2 separate regions of the Homo sapiens genome follow, and region 1 is linked to region 2. A link means that fine-mapping ties the variant in region 2 to the expression of a gene that starts in the linked region. Tissue or cell type: pancreas. Region 2 holds a variant in brackets; the other region holds the start of a gene. All regions are shown on one strand. Distances are from middle to middle.

Region 1 (8,105 bases), 160 kb before region 2:
GTCAGTTTCAGGTGAGTTCATTTTCATGCCGATGTCATTATACAAGAGTTTAGGAGAGTTTTCTCATCCTTGTCTGTAGGTTGGAATCACTTGGGTATTTTTTAAATGCTGCCGCCTGGGTTGCATCCCCAGGGATTCTGATTTAACTGGCTTTGGGTGCATCCTAACTTTGGGTTTTAAAAGCTCCCTAAGTGATTATGTTTAGAGAAGGTTGAGAATCCCTAAGTTAAGAAGTAAAGACCTACAAAGGGATAAAGACTCATATGCTATAAATATCAGATATATCACAGTTACTGGGGAAGAGATTGGGGGCCAGAAAAAAATGGAGTCTTCGATCCCCTTCAGCCTCACTTTTGACTTAGGTGGAAAGACAACACAAAATTCGAAACAAGACCATCAGGGATACTACTCCTGAATGACAATCTTCTAAGCTAGGTAGAGCCCACTTCCAGAATAGGATTTGTAAAGTAGTAGAAAAATGTTTTTAGTAATAATAGTAGAAAAATGTAAAAGTGTTTTACACTGGTGAATAATGACAATGAAATGTCCTAATCCCAAAGGTAATACGATTCCACCTCAGGAAGCTGACTTCTCCCTTACCGGACTTCTCCCTTTTTCTAGTGACATCTGTCTCTTCCTCCTCAAGTTTTGACTATTTTTTAGTAAATAAAAAACGAATACTCTCAATATGGTCATGCACTGCATAATGATGTTTTGGTCAATGAGGGGCTGCATATATGAGAGTAGCCTCATAAGATTACAATAGAACTAAAAAATTCCTATCGCCTGGTGATTTGTGTTACAATTGTTGACAGTATTCAGTACAGTAACACACTGTACAAGTTTGTAGCCTAGGTGTTTAGTAGGCTATACCCTCTAGGTTTGTGTAAGTACCATACACTCTATGGTGTTTGCACAATGAATAAATCACCTAACGACACATGTCTCAGACCTTATCCCCCTTCATTAATCAACAAATGACTGTATAGCATTTCTTCACTAACTTCTTCAATATTCCTACGGGCTCCAAACTCCAGACAACCTAAAGTGTCCTAAAAGGGAATGTGATCAATACACTATCAAAAAAGCCATATATGCCAGATTTAGGGGCAGTTTCCCGGTGGGAAAAATAACCAAAACAAGATTCAAGAAGCTCCCTCCCCTGCTGCTTCCCACACCAGCTGACTTTAAATAACTTCTTTCCCATTTCTGCCCCACCCCATTCCAGCGCTCCCTTCAACAAGACTTTTCAATAAAGACATGTTAGCACTACATAGTTACAATAATTATTATCCTATTTTTTTCCCTTAAGAATTGTAGTAACCTTTTTCTCCCTCTTTTGCCTTCAGTCTTACTGGGCTATTTTCAAATTCTCTGCATTCTTTTCCTTATAAGGAATATCTTTCCTTGATCTATTAGCAGCTCTTTTGAAAAAGCTAAATAAACGTCCTGCTGGAGAATTTGCGGGAGGCAGGCATCTTCCATTTAGCCATATATAGAGCAGGCATCTGATCTGCATTATACAAAGTAGGCTCAGAGTCATATATGGTTTTTGGCTCTTTTTCCAAAGCCAGGTAGTTTAGAATTTAAATGTTTTAGCGAAATCAGTGCTTCCCCCCAAATCCCCTTTCCAGGAAGCTTGATTTTCACTGAAAATTTCTTTTTGTCAGATCCTAAATGTCGTCTCTGGAGTTCTCATTTACAAAGCACACCTGGATATACATCTCAAGCCTTTCATGCTACAAAAGACTTCACTAATTTCAAGACCTGAGACCCTTCAGTTATTTGCATGTTACTTTCATATAAAAAAGTCTGCTGTTGCTCTCGGTGTTTCAACTGCTGGCATAGCTTTCCCTGGTGCTCACACATTCTTGGAATTGTTACCAACTTCCCAAGGAATTCTTTTCTAATTGGGCCTCTAGGCTTAATTAGCTTTTAGAATGGAATCCAACGGTGTGAAAAGAAGTTGGTCCTTTGGCTTGACTTTCCGAGGCAGAAGAGGCAAGCTATCAATTAAAAAGCTTCCAAAGGGCAGTGGACAAAGAGCTTAGGAGAGCCTTAGCTGTGTGCATCACCCCTGCAACTATGTGGTGGTTGTCAGAAGGCTGACAGGTGGGGGCGGGGCCAGCAGGAGGGGCAGGGGGCAGCTAGCTCACTATACCATATAAAGCACTGAGCTATATATAACTCACAGCTTACTTTCTGGATCTAGTGCCTTCAGACTGCAGACCCAAGCAAGTATCATCTTCCCAGGCAGATCTTAAGGGGTGGATTAAGGCTTACACTAATGAGAAAGGAAGCCTCAAAGTGTCTCTGTGCCCCACCATGAAGTGCAGCCATCTAAGTAAAGGTACCGCTGTGTCATTTCTTTCATTTAGAGGCCAGGTTCTCTGAACCCTGACTAGACCCACCACCAAACCCAGAACTTCCCACCCACTGGAAACGGCAAAAGGAAAGAAAGTGAAGAAAACCTGGCATTCTCTACACAAACCTTGGTGATGACACCTCAAGGGTTTTCTGCCACCAGGGAGGTGAAGTTCACCTCCAGAGTCCAATTTCAGCTGCTCTATTCTCCCAGCCTCTCATCCACCCACCTCCACCCCCAGGGAGGTAAAGGAAAGGAGAAGAAGAGAGGAGTGGATGAAATATAAATGAATGTGTGCAGTAGCAGTCAGAGGCGGCATCCAATGCTCTGGGCCATGGCAGGGCTGTGTGCAGGTGTCCAGCAGGAAAAGGTAAACTTCCTTCATTGCTCTCCAGCCCTGTGGTGACCCCGGAGTGGCCACGCAGGCAAGAGGTGAGGGAAGCAGTGTGAGCGTGCACTTACATCGGTGGCCTTTTTCTCTGCCAGCTCCAGCTTCTCCTGGGCATCTTTGAGAGCCTCAGAGTATTTGTCCAGTTCATCTTCGGTGCCCTTGAGTTTCTTTTGCAGTGACACCAGCTCATCTTCCAGCTGGGAGTTGGCCAGGGGGTACAGGGAGGGAGGGGGGTGCAGCAGGCAGCGTGATCCCGAAGGGGAGGGGTGTGGGTGCACAGAACCAGAAGGACAGGGACAGCGGGAGAGACAGAGGGAAAGACAGGGAGGGAGAGAGAGAAAGAGAAAGAGTTAGCCATTCGTGCGCCACGCCGTGCCGCGCGCCCCGGGTACCTTGGCGGCGGCCTCTTCGGCGGCCAGGAGGCTGTCCTCCGCCTTGTGCAGCTCCTCCAGCACCCGGTCCCGCTCGTCCTCCGACACCCGCAGCAACTTCTCCTTGGCCGCGATGTCCTCCTCGAGCTGGGGGCAGCGGCGGGCGGGCGCGGGCGGCCGGCACGGACCGGGTGTTAGACACACACAACACACGGGCGTCGGGTTGGCTGGGGCCCCTCGGGCTCGGGGCGCCGCCGAGTTGGAGTGCAAAGGACCCGAGGTAACTTCCTCTTTACCCGAGCTGGAACCGCTCCGCGGCTCACCCCGCACACCCACCTGCCCTGGGACGAGACTCCTGCCGAGGTCTCAGCGGGCTCAAGTCCACTACTTGGGGACACAGAAGAACGCCACTGCTGGCCTGGCTTTCGGGCTGTAGCCTCCATTCCGCCCCATCTTTGTTCTTAGGTAACAACTCCAGGACTCCCTTCTCCTCCCCAAGTTTAAGGTTCCTTTCTCCCCAGTCAAAAGTCAACGAACTTCTAACACTTGAGTTACTCGACCCCCTTTCTCCATCCCTCGCCCTTCCTTCAAACGTCCCCAGGAACCGGGTGTCCTCCTCCCTCCCCCAAACTGATTCCCAGTCCTGAGAATAAAGCGCCTCTAGGACTTGATTTCGCGGGCCATGGGAACCAGAGAAGGGAAATAAGCGTCCTCAGACCAGACTAAGTTAGACTAAGCCTGGCTCTTGCGTTTCCCTTCCTTCTTTCCAGACGCGCGCCCTGGCCGCCCTGGGTGGTGGTGGGGGTAGGGTGGTGGCTCCCCGAGTCCTCGGGGTGGGGATCCAGCCGGGGGTGCCAGGCTCGAGTCCCGGCGCTCTGGGCGCGGGCGCAGGGCCGGGGAGGCGCAGACCTGCTTGCTCCTGTCTTCCGCCGCCTTCTTGTCGGCCTCCGCCTGCTCAGCTCGATCCAAGGCGTTCTCCTTGTCGAGCTTCAGCATCTGCATCTTCTTCTTGATGGCGTCCATGGTGGCGGCGGCGAGGGGCCCTGGGGCTGCAGCAGGAGCGGCGGGGCGAGCGCGCGGTCGGGCGGAGGAGCGGGAGTGCGAGCGCGGAGCCGCCTGCTTCTCCCAGATATGTACTTTCCCAAGGGGGCGACCGCATTCCTCAAGACAGCCAATACTTTTTTGGAAAAGCTTTTTTCTCCTGCCCCCCTTCCTCCTCTCCTCCCTCCGCCCCGTGCCCCCTCCCCGCTCCTCCCGCGGGGGCCGCTCGCCCATTCGCTGCCGGCCGCCGGCCTCCCAGTTGACGGTGGATATGACTATATATGGGGACCCGAGCCGCCGAGGCGGCGGCCGGAGAGGCCGCCCTGTTTCTAAACCTGCGCGCCAGGGAGAGGGCGTTGGGGCCGAGCCGGGGCCGAGGCGCAACCCTCCGCCCTCCGCGTGCCCTTCTCCCAGGGCCGGCACCCAGCCATTAGGGTCCCCAACCGAGCCCGCCCTGAGCTGCCGGAGGCCGGGAGAGCGCGGACCAGGTGGTGGATGCGCGTCGCCCCCCTGTGCCGTCCCCCGGCGCGCTTAGCCAAAGGCCCGGGGGCTTCCCAGCCGTGCTGCACCCCGCGTCAGGGTCAGTGCGCTCTCGGCACCCGCCAGCGCCTCCCCGGCAGCTCTCAGCCAGCCAGGTGTCATCCTGCGCGCTCACGCTCTGGAAACTCAACTGCAGCAGAGAAAGGGAGAACGTGGGAGAAAGCCTGGGGCGGCTCTTGAGACTTTCTCTGCGGGCGCGGGTCAGAGAGGCAGGGGGCGGCACAGCGACAGCACACGGAGTCTTGTTTTCTGCCTGCCCTTTCCCCCAGCGGAGGGACAGTCAAATACTTTAGGGACACAGGACTCAGTGGCGTACTTCTGTGCTTGCTGTGCAGTGCCTCCAAAAAGGTGTGCATGTGTGCGTGTGTGTGCGGGTGGCAGTCTAAGGGGAAAGAACATTGAGTTTAGACTCAGGCAATTTGGTCTGTGGTCTCTACTCTGCCACCAGCAACTGTGAGACCTTGTTTGCTGCCCGCGGCTTCCTCAACTTTAAATCCAGCGGGTAGATAATCCCCGAGGTCCCTCCAGATATAACTTGTTATCATTTTTCTTGCACTGATTTTAGGGAGTCGGCCTTCCATGTTAGATGCTTAGGTGCCAGGTTTCGGAAAACATGGGATCGGCGTTAACCTGGCTAAGTCATTGCATCCGCAGCCGCAACTCTGAGGAGGCTCTGCCGTGTGAGCTGTGCTTGGAAGGAGGAGGATTTCCCCCAACACTTCTTATTTTTAACTACTCCTCCCATCTCCCAAGGGGGAAAGGCTGCTTTTTTTCAGAGCTTCAGTGGGAGGGGAGGAGAGGGGGCTGCCCCCAAGCCCTGAGATCAGCTGAGGCAGGGTTGGTGAGGGTCTTGTTAATAGTCCCCACAGAATAATTCACAGTCTGTACTGCATGGTTACCAAATATTCCCCGGACGGTATCTGAGCAGATTAGGCAGGCCAAACAACTTGTAAGTCCTTCAGAGAATGATCAAATTCCTCTCCAAGATTTTATCGGGTTTCTTCCACTAACCTAACTGCCCAGGAGGGAAAAGATACACTGACCTAATGGTCAGAACATTAGATCTGACCATTAGCATAGGGGCTGCGTGGCACAGAAATTGACCAGAGCCCTTTAATCACGGTGTGTCAACCCAGCCACCGGAACAGTGACAAAGTTCCAGGCATGTGGACGATATCCAGATGCGTGGACTCCAGGGAGCTGACTCCCCAGGTTGGAGCTCAGCAGAGGAGGCAAGAATAGGGAGTTAGGAGTCAGTTCCAGGGATCCAGACCTGGCCTGGTCACTTCCTTGCAGTGTGACCTTAGCCATGTTACAATCTCTCTAAGCCTTTTTTCTCACTTATAAAAAGAGGCAACTGAACTAGAGAAACTCCTTGCGGGACCACATGTTACTGACTTTTCTTTTCTTACTGTGCCATATGTAGCCGAGGGACTCATTAAAGTTTCCTTAAATGAAATCATGCTACAAGCAATTTATTAAACACACGGTTGTTGAGTACCTGCTATATACTAGGCAGGTACTAGGCTCTGGAATCCAAAGAATGAGTAGCACAGGTCTATGTCCTCCAGGTGTTTGGCATGAGAAAGGTGTTAAGAATTCACACGAGGAAGAAATAGAAATGACTAGGTCAGAGCAGATGGGAAAAAATTCTCTGAAAAGGTGATGGCTTTTAAACTGATTTTAAAGGAAGGGTAGCAGTTAGCTAGAGAGGAGGGCCGTTGTATGCGCCAAGGAAAGAAAAAGGAATGTTTGGTGGTGGTTGGACAGTAGGATTTTGGGGGTGAATGGGGGCATGAGACTGGAAAGGAAGCTTGGGGCTGTATGATAAAGGGCCTTGAATTCCAGATTCAGACATTCAGACCTTATTGTGTAGTTTAAAGCCATCGATGTCTCTTCTTTTCACCTCTTCCTCTCCCAGACTCCCTCACCTAGGGCCTATATTCAGAGGTCGAAGCCTATGGTGTCAAAGTATGGAAATGGAGCTATACAACGCTAACTTTTAAAATCCCTTAGTACCACATCATTGATCTCTAGACTGATGGGTTAACATAGCAGGTCCTGAATTCAATCATTTCTTTTAACCCATGTTGAGATTCTGCCATGTGTCAGGCCCAAGTCAGCTTCATGGGCTATACCACCCATGACCTTTTTGTCACCAAGGGCTAAGACAAAGCTAGGACAAGCAAAACGTCATGACTTAAATAACACATTCTTCTGTAGTGAACAGGTCTCCTGGTCCTCTCCAGAGGTAGGCTGGACAGTCACAGGCTGTATGTAGTGTGTATCCCTGTTCTCTGGCTGATTGGCCACAACTCAAGGATGGATCTAAATACTAACCAGGGACTTGGCGTTGTGGCTTGTCAGGCAATGATGAACTGGGCCACTCAGCTTCTTTCATTGCAGTTTGAATTAAGGAACGTGAAAAATGGGAATCACTAGCCGTGGCTGCTGAAACAAAAAGGGATTGCAGTGTCGGGCTGGAAATGCCACGTGTAAAAGTGATTAAGGTTATTCACAATTTTTTAGGTTTTCTCCCCAGTCAATGTCGTGGTAGCATTGTACATCCCACCCAATTAAGTTGGCTGTGGCCATTTGACTTGCTTTGGCCAAGGAAACGTGAGCAGAAATGACTTCTGGTGGATACTTAAAGAGCTCACGACTAACCATGTTCATTTTTCAAGACTGTGGCTGCTCTGTCATTGTGGGTTTTCAAGTGGCTCCCTCTTTCCCCCCAACTAACCCTTGGTGGACATGTAGTGAGAATAAGATATAAATCTTTGTTATTTTAGGCCACTGAGATTGGGGGTTGTTTGTTACTGAAGCATAACTAGCTTCTCCTGACTAATACAGCACAATAGGCATGCATCAGCTAAGTTATGAAAAAGCAGAGAAGTGATTATAGAGAAAGAATGAAGCAGGCATATCAAGATAAACAGAAGCACCATTTAGAGAAAGAGATTGGGAGAATATGACCAAATTTCAGTTCCAGGGGTCCTTATAATAACCCCCTGTATTTCTTGAGGTTACATAAGCGAGTCTATATTCCTTGAAAGTAAAAAGCTTACCAAATCATGGTGGCATGACAGCCTGCACAACATTCAACATTCTTGGCCTAGAGGCTCTACGTGATCACCACGAACATGCTTGGAATTTCCAGATTTCTCCAGTGCCTGGTATTCAGTCATTTCTCAATGAATGTTTGTTGAACAATTTTTTTTATGACTGACAAGTCCAGCTTTCTTACTGACTTACAAGAAAGTCTGGGAAGGTAAAGTAACAAATCTAGGTTCAAAAGATCTTGTTTCCATTCAAAATATGGGCTCTGTGTCTTATTTCATGAAGAATGAATATAAGTATTGTGATAGGGTAAGACAAATGTCTCCAAATATTTATT
Region 2 (8,105 bases):
TTAAAGCCAACATGCAAGTTGGTGGATAAAAGTACTTCATAGGAAGAGGCCCAGCAGGAAAAGTTATAGAATGGGGTTTTTGGTGATGAAAAGTTTGTGACTGGCCAAACTAAGCCATGCATTTGAGGATGATGAAGGAACACTCTCCTTCAGCAAAGTCTGAGTACCCACAAGTTTTTACTTGTGCAAGATAGCTTAGGGGTTGTTGTATCTGATGTTAGAGAACCCTCCCCCCGCCCCCCAGGTCTCTTCAGGTCTGTAGAAGCTCCAAATGGACCTGTATGTAATTTGGAGACTGAAAAAAATACAAACCCCTGAGTCTGATTCAACACCACCACGCATCACTTTTTTTTTTTTTTTTTTTTTTCTTTTTGAGACGGAGTCTTGCTCTGTCACTGGGCTGGAGTGCAGTGGCGCGATCTCAGCTCACTGCAACATCCACCTACTGGATTCAAGTGATTCTCCTGCCTCAGCCTCCCGAGTAGCTGAGACTACATGTGTGCGCCACCAGGCCCAGCTAATTTTTGTATTTTTAGTAGAGATGAGGTTTTACCATGTTGGCCAGGATGGTCTCGATCTCTTGACCTCGTGATTCACCCGCCTTAGCCTCCCAAAGTGCTGGGATTAAAGGTGTGAGCCACTGTGCCTGGCCAGGGCACTCTTAATCAAAAGAAGTACATTTCCAGGGCTGAAACTGAGCCTCCTTATTGACATTAGCACATCAGTTTTATGATTGTTCATCATAATAAAACAAATCAGGGTTTTGCACCCATGAACACTAGAAAAAGTGACACCAAGCCCTGGCTAAGGTTGGAAGATGTGGAGATTGCAACAGCAACCTTAGATGCACCTGTACGCAAGCAAATTAACATGCCCTCCCCTTCTCGGCTTGCGCAGAGCTCAAAGGAGCTTAACAGGATTAGGAGCAAATACCTTGTTGTTATTTTTAACATTGCTCAACTCTTTTGTAAATCTCTCCATTGTCCCTGCCAGTAACCTCTTCCTAAAGGGAGGCATCCAACCTTAGAAACATAACAGGCAGAGTTGGCAATAATTCATTCGAGGTCTTACCTAGTAGTGGCCCATGGAATTTAGTACCTAAAAAAGAGATTCATAACGTGGTAGAAAGCTTATTGGCCTTGAAGTTAGATAGACCTAGATTTGAATTCTGATTCTGCAGCTTATGAGTCTTGGTCAAGTTATCTTGACCCTTTGAACCTCAGTTTCCTTTAAAATGAGGATGTTACCTACCTCACAAAATTACTGTAAAGATTAACGATAATAAATGGAGAGTCCCTGACATGGAGTCGTGGAAGTTATCACCTGGTAGATGCTTAATAAATGTTGGCTACACTTACACACACACACGTGCACACACTCACCTATATATATGCACACACATATATATACACACATATATATACACATTTAAAATTTAATTACTAGATAATTAGAGGAAAAATAAGATGCACACTCTTTCACTTCTGAACGTTTCTGAAATTGGGTTGTGTCTTTTAATTGATGGCAACCCAAATTTACTAGCAGCAAATAGAGGAATGAGTTGTGACATGGTTTTCATCACTGAGTTATGCAAACTTAGCTAAATCTTTCCAAGGAGATTGCAGAATTGAGAGCTGGGAGAGGCTGCTGTGGTTAATTTGTGCCCTGTGAAAGATTATCACTAGATACTGCACATCCATCTGTCAAAAGTATCTGGGTGACTTCCAAATTTCCAGTGATATGTAATTCAGTTGCAGAGAAAATGAAACCATGAGTTTAACCAAATAGGAAATGCATGCAAAACCTGGCATATTAACTGTCTCTACTAAGTATACTCAGGATGTCAAGTTCACGGGTACAGGTTCCATAAGTCTACATTTCTATGACAGTACTTGCCTCAACTGGGAAGAGTCTTCAGACTGTAAATGTGAAAAAAATTTAGAGTCGATGGTGATATTAAAAAAGAAAATGCTATATGATTATACAGATAAATGTGCATGATATGGTTTGGCTCTGTGTCCTCACCCAAATCTCATCTTGAATTGTAATCCCCACGTTTCGGGGGAGGGACGTGGTGGGAGGTGATCAGATGATGGAGGCAGTTTCCCCCACGCTGTTCTCATGATAGTGACGGAGTTCTCAGAGATCTGATGGTTTTTAAAGTGGCAGTTTCCCCTGCGTACTGTCTCTTTCCTGCTGCCATGTATGACATGCCTGACATGCCTTGCTTCCCCTTCACCTTCTGCATAATTGTAAGTTTCCTGCGGAACTGTGAGTCAATTAAACCTCTTTCCTTTATAAGCTACCCAGTCTCAGGCAGTTCTTTATAGCAGTGTGAAATGGACTGATACAGTACAATATTAGTTGTTTTTAAAAAAGTGTTTAATTCGATATGACTTTTTTTCAGTAAATCTGTGTTAAGCTGATGGTGCATCTTATAACTGATGGCATCTTATAACACATTAAATACGGTCGCACTAAACCACCTCTCCCATCCCTGACTAGTACCACCTGTGCTCATGTTGCTGTATTCTGTGACATTAGCTGACTAGGCTGATTCAAAATTAGCAGTGGCAGGCAATCTGTGTGGCCAGTGAACATTCATCCACATTAATGATTAGGAAAACAAAAATCCAGACCAAAATGAAAGACCATTTCATTTGGCCAAAAAACTGTAAAGGTCTAATAATTCCTTTGGAGAACAGTTTGATATTTTCTCATGAAGTTGAACATCCACATACTCTATGACCTAGAAATTGCATCCCAAACAAAGAGTCGCTGCACTTGCACACCAAGAATCACATACAAGGAAGCGGCTAGTTCCATTTGCAACTCACACAATCACACAAATGCTTTTCTTCAAGACGTCCCTTGTACTTCAGTATTTAGCAGAAGTGCTTTATGCAAACTCCCTATTTTGTCACACAGAATATTAAAAAGACATGCATTCAAGGGTTGAGACTGACTGGAATTAATAACTTTTACTGCTTCGTCAAGATGCAATCTTCAGTGAAATTGGAAAATCTGTAGTGAGGATGTATGGGAGTGAATAATTCAATGACTACTAGTTCTGTTTAGTGCTATTGTTTGATCTGTGTTAAGTCACCTGCAGTTTTACCTACCATTGCTTTTGTACATCAATGTGGAAAAGGCAAATAATATCTTAGAATTATTATGAAAATAGGTTTGATTTTGCAGCTTCCTTGAAAGGATCACAGGGACCCACAGGGGCAGACCAGGCTCCAAGAATGCTGCTGTACCACAGTATTCCAATATATTAATTTATTATAATTTATTCTAGTGTTGGTGCACATTTGGGTAGCTTCCAGTTTCAGGTTATTACATATAGTGTGTAGCAAGGTTTTAGAATATATTCTTCTCCCTGCCACATAAAAGTGTACTTAACCCAGCACCTGGCATACAGTAGGCATTTAATACATTTCAGTCATGAAAATTCCTTTACAGAGGAGTCCTCATTATGCTCTGTTTAGGATTTCCCTACCTCTACCTTGTGCTGTACACAGTAGGATCTCTATACAGATGATAACAAGATATTTTCTCAAAAAGCCATAGAAAGAAATGAATTAGTTATTAGCAAAGGCAGAAACTAGAAAAGTAACTTCTGCCCTTCTCCCAACCTGGGACCCTGGGATGCCTCCAACCCTGGGCTGTTACTGAACTTTTCCATAGCTTAGGAGGAGTAAAACCCCTCGGAGAATGGATGCCTCCTCCTGGCAACTGCTGCCCAATCCCCAAAGTCAGCAGCTCTCTAGCCACTGCAAGGCTGCATGGAGAAAAGCCAGATGTCTGTCCCTAAGGCGTCCAGGCCTCCCTTCCCCAGACACCAGGACCCAGAAAGGCCTGCTCCCTGCCCTCTGGCAGCCATATGCGGGGGTTGGGATTCATGTTTCTGTCATTTGAAACTTCGACCCTTGGAGGAAAGATGCCAAGATGCAGGGATAATTGAAAAGTGACCTCTGGCAATGGCAGGTGTTTCTGGGACGTGCGCTTGACCTGCTGGCTGCTGTCCAGCCTCTCTTGGTTCCTATCTATTTTCCAAGCCCAGCTTCTCCAAAAAGTTCTGCCAATTCTGTGAACACCTCAACATCTTCCCTATAGATTCCTTCTTAGCTTACATGGGCCCACTGGTTTCTGTTACTTGCACCCAATGACCCTGACTCATTTCACACCTTCATTAGAAGCCTGTTCTGAGAATCTGCTCTCAGGAGTGGGCAAGGGTCAGGCCTGCCACCCAGGGAGCCATATTAGGAGTTATTAACATGTTGGGGCAGCCCTTTGACTCCTCCTTTTAGCCCTTGTCTTCCCATTTACCTCTCCGGGCCTCCCCAGATGTCTGTCAGCCTTCTAAGCAGGCAGTACCCATGGCAGACTATGGTGGCATCATGCCCTCACAGCCTCTTTTGCTCCCACAGCATTAGTCATGACCACCCCCACTCTCCCAGCACCTTGTCCTCGCCTCCATGAAGGACAGATCACATTCTCTTGCAGCCGTTTGTTTACTCACCTGCTGTCCCACCTGCTTCTGATCACCTTAGGCCTGTGAGC[C/T]ATCAGCCCCTGATTCACAAATGGTGACGCAGGAAGCAGTTTACACCTTTGCCAACCCCAGCACCCAAACGGCCAAGAGTGAAGGATAAAGCGTGCTGTTCTCACACTGCCACGGGAGCTTGAGGGCTGAGTACACAGGTCTAAAGAGAGGAGTTGATGTCAAGGGGAAGGTTGGCCTTCATAGCACAAAGCTGAGCCATTTGCTTGGTACAGTGCCTTTCCTTAGATTCCCGAGGACTTTTCCTAGCAGGGCAATGGGAGGAGCTGGCCCCCAAAGGAAGGTTGGAGTCACCCACCAGCTCTCTGTCCAGCCCGAGAGAGCGGCTCCAGCAGCCTCTTAGCGGAATCTCTCCGGACATAGACGTGTGAGGTTCCTCTTTACTAGAGGCAAGAATCTCTGAGCGCCCATGTGAGTGCTTCTCCACCCCAAGTCCACTTCAGAATCCTGTAACTGCTGGGACAGCCAGCCAACCCTGAGTGGCGAGATCATGACTTTGGTTGGAGGGTCCTCTGTACTGTTCCGTGACACTCATGTATCAGGTCTTTCCTGACAGAGCAACTCAATGTGGAGCCCAGTGTCTTCGGCCAGGCTGCATGAGATTCCTTCCCTGCACACCACTCCTCTGGGTAAAGAGCCAGAGGTGATGGCACCTGGATCAAGCTGGGATCCCACTGTTGAGGCCTCATGTGGCTCCCTCTGGCTGCCTGACCCTTTCCACCCCCTGCTTTGGGCCCCATTTGTCCAGCAACAGCCTGTTAAGTGCTAAGGCTTGCCTCCTACCACTGCAGAATTGGGGGCGGGGAGCCCTGGAGGTCATCCAGGCCTGTGCCTGGTAGGACCACCCCAACATTTACCACTGGTCTGGGCAAATTGCTGCTTCCCAGAAGTGGCTTTACCAAGACAAGGGCTAACCTCACTTAGGTCCCAAAAGTGAGGTTAGCCCTCTTTTTCATCATGACCCAAGCCCAGGAAGGGAGGACACAGGGCCTATTACATTATGTCTGGAAAGTTGGAGGGTTTCTTTCATCCAGTCGTGTTGCTAAATAACCTGCTGAGAGGCCACGGCCACATCCCAAGAAGGATCCCAAAGATGAGCTTCACCCACCAATGCTCCTGAGATGGCCAAAGGCAGGCTCTTTACTCCAGAAACCAGGAACAGGAGGCATAGGGAGAGAGAGATTTGAGTATTAAATTTAAATCTCTCCATTTAAGTTTAAATTTAATATTTAATTAAATTTAAATTTAGAAAAGAAAATTAAAATGAAACATTGCTTAGCTGATTGAAACTCCTGATTTGTGTGTTTCTAAGCTCAGAGAATGATCCCTCGAGGACTCATGGCTGGTGGCCACCAGTGATGAGACAAAGGCAAGAGAGGGGCCCTGGGCTCACTACACTTCTAGCCTCAGTGCCCTGCACCATTTCTGCTCTGCACCTCACCCCAAAAATGCCAGACAGCAGAGGGAACCCTGGGCTGAGACGGAGACCTGGGACCTAGTGCCAGCTCTCCCATGGAGTGACCTTAGACACCCCGTTTCATGCACCAAGCCTCAGCTTCCTCATCTATAAAGAAGAAGGACAATGGGCTATCACTTGCAAACCCTGTAAAGTTTTTGTTAAGCTCCAGCAAGACAGGGTATGAGAAGTGTGCAGTGGGAAGAACTTCACAATGCGAGCTATTGTTAGTGTTATTTTTGCTCATAGAGGGTGGCCATCCCTGCCTGGGAGGTGGCATGAGGAGTATGCCAGGCTGGCAGGAAATGCCGTGGCCATGGGCATGGGGGACCTGGCAGTGGCCTATGATTCCAGAGAGTGTGCCCAGGAGCTAGGTGTCTAAATAAGCAAATGCAGGCCTCCCTGAGGACGTGGACAGTCATGCACCCCACAGAAGGTCTGAGTGGGTAGTTATGGGCACCCCAGGTTTCTGGACCAGCTGTTCCTCCAGCCCGTCTTGGAGCTGGAAGCAGAATAGAGACCAGAGTCTGGGGTCAGGGTTGGGGTAGGGGCTGTTGTGAAGCTGCATTGTGCATTTGCTGTGGGAATGCTGGCAGTCACATGCCTTCTGCCATTGCCTGCCCGGCTGGGTAAAACTGAGCTTCTGTGCCTTTAAAATTGTTTGACATCTTTGAGATTGGAAACAGAGCTCCCCAGTGGAAGGCCAGCAGTAGCTATGGAATGCTATTCTAATACAAAACTTACTCTCGGTGGATTTAAACTGATAATCCCACTGGCAGGCTTTGGAGCGAAATCACCTATTATGGTCCTGGAAAAGGCCCCAGATTCTCTGGGCTGATCTTTGCCCATGTGGGCTAGTGAGAATAGAGCTGTTTTCCCTCTCAGGCTATGCAGCCCCATCTCCCACCCTCAGCTGACGAGACAACCCTGAGATTCTAGTCCGGATACAGGACTGAGAGCTCAGGGCTGGCGGGGAGTCCCCATGGTGTTTTGCTCTAAGACACTCGCTAGCCCAACCCCTTAGGGGTGCCTGGCCAAGCGCTCAACATCAGCAGATGGCAAAGCTCGCGCTGGCGGACAGGTCTCCATTCCAGGCTGCCTCCCTCTCCCAGACCATAATGTCAAGGATGCGGGCCCATTTCGCAGTGGGGGTAAGCCTGGGTACTGCAGTTTCTCATGGCCAGTCAGCTCCCGAGGCGACGGTTCCTTCCTCCCACTGCGGGGACCCTTGTGACCGCCTGGGGACTCTCCAGCTAATCCCTCCTGGGCCTGGCCCTCCCATGGTCAAGTCCTCTGTTCCAACGGAGGCTCTGGAGGCAGAGAGAGCAGGGTTAAATCCTGGTCTGCAAGATTACTTAGGGCAAGTTACTTAGGCCTTTCTGATCTTTAGTTTCTTCCCCTGTCAAATGGGTATAGTAATCACACACATTTCAGTGTTAAGAGAATGAAATGAGCTAGACTAGAATCAACAGCCTAGCACGGTGGCTCTCAAAGTGTGGTCCAGGAGTCCGCAAGACCCTTTCAGGGTAGCTTTGAGGTCAACACTGTTTTCATGAAAATACCAAGATGTTATTTGTCTTTTTACTCTCATTTTCTCACCCTCATGGTTTCCAAAGGCTACTGGCTCTGACAGCTGTTGGGATGTGTGCTGTGTATTCTTCTTTTTAAAATATTCTCAGCTTCAATTTATAAAATGATAATGATCCATAAACAGAAGTCTGGGGCCATCAATAATTTTTAAGGGGCCTCAAGACCAAAAACATGGAGAGAACCGCTGGACCAGCACAACACTGTGTGCTTAGTAGGTTTTCTTTTCATTGGCTCTGAGCTGTCTTCCTTGCCCTGTTTCCCCATTCCTTGATGCAGGGCGTTCCTGTCCTTTGCACCATAAAGGATGCATTTTATTGTTCATTTACTCCCAGCCCTACTTACTGCACCTTCACATGTGGAAGGACTCGACCTACCAACTTGATGCCTTGGTAATGGTTGTTTTTCTCATGTTGCATGAGCCCCAGTACCCACAGGCCAGCAGTATTATTACCTCACTATGCTGATTTCATCCTGGTAAAAACAAAACAACAACAA

Evidence for each region. PIP is the estimated chance that this variant, and not a neighbour inherited with it, causes the effect.
Region 1: it holds the start of TPM1, and the variant in region 2 is fine-mapped to the expression of TPM1 in pancreas (GTEx, PIP above 0.99).

What each region holds. Positions count from the first base shown.
Region 1 is chr15:63,038,875-63,046,979 of GRCh38, reverse strand. It overlaps TPM1 (tropomyosin 1), which reads right to left and starts at 4,233. Exons shown (of 10, transcript NM_001018005.2): 1 at 4,037-4,233; 2 at 2,828-2,953. The coding sequence starts at 4,150. TPM1-AS (TPM1 antisense RNA) reads left to right here. Exons shown (of 2, transcript NR_147233.2): 2 at 1-946. RefSeq lists enhancers at 2,548-3,461, 4,375-5,289.
Region 2 is chr15:62,874,055-62,882,159 of GRCh38, reverse strand. All of the region lies in intron 1 of LOC105370854 (a long non-coding RNA gene), which reads left to right. Among named protein-coding and RNA genes, the nearest start is that of MIR190A, 54 kb to the right of the region's middle. RefSeq lists an enhancer at 5,946-6,784. The variant C/T (reference allele first, on the strand shown) is at 4,567.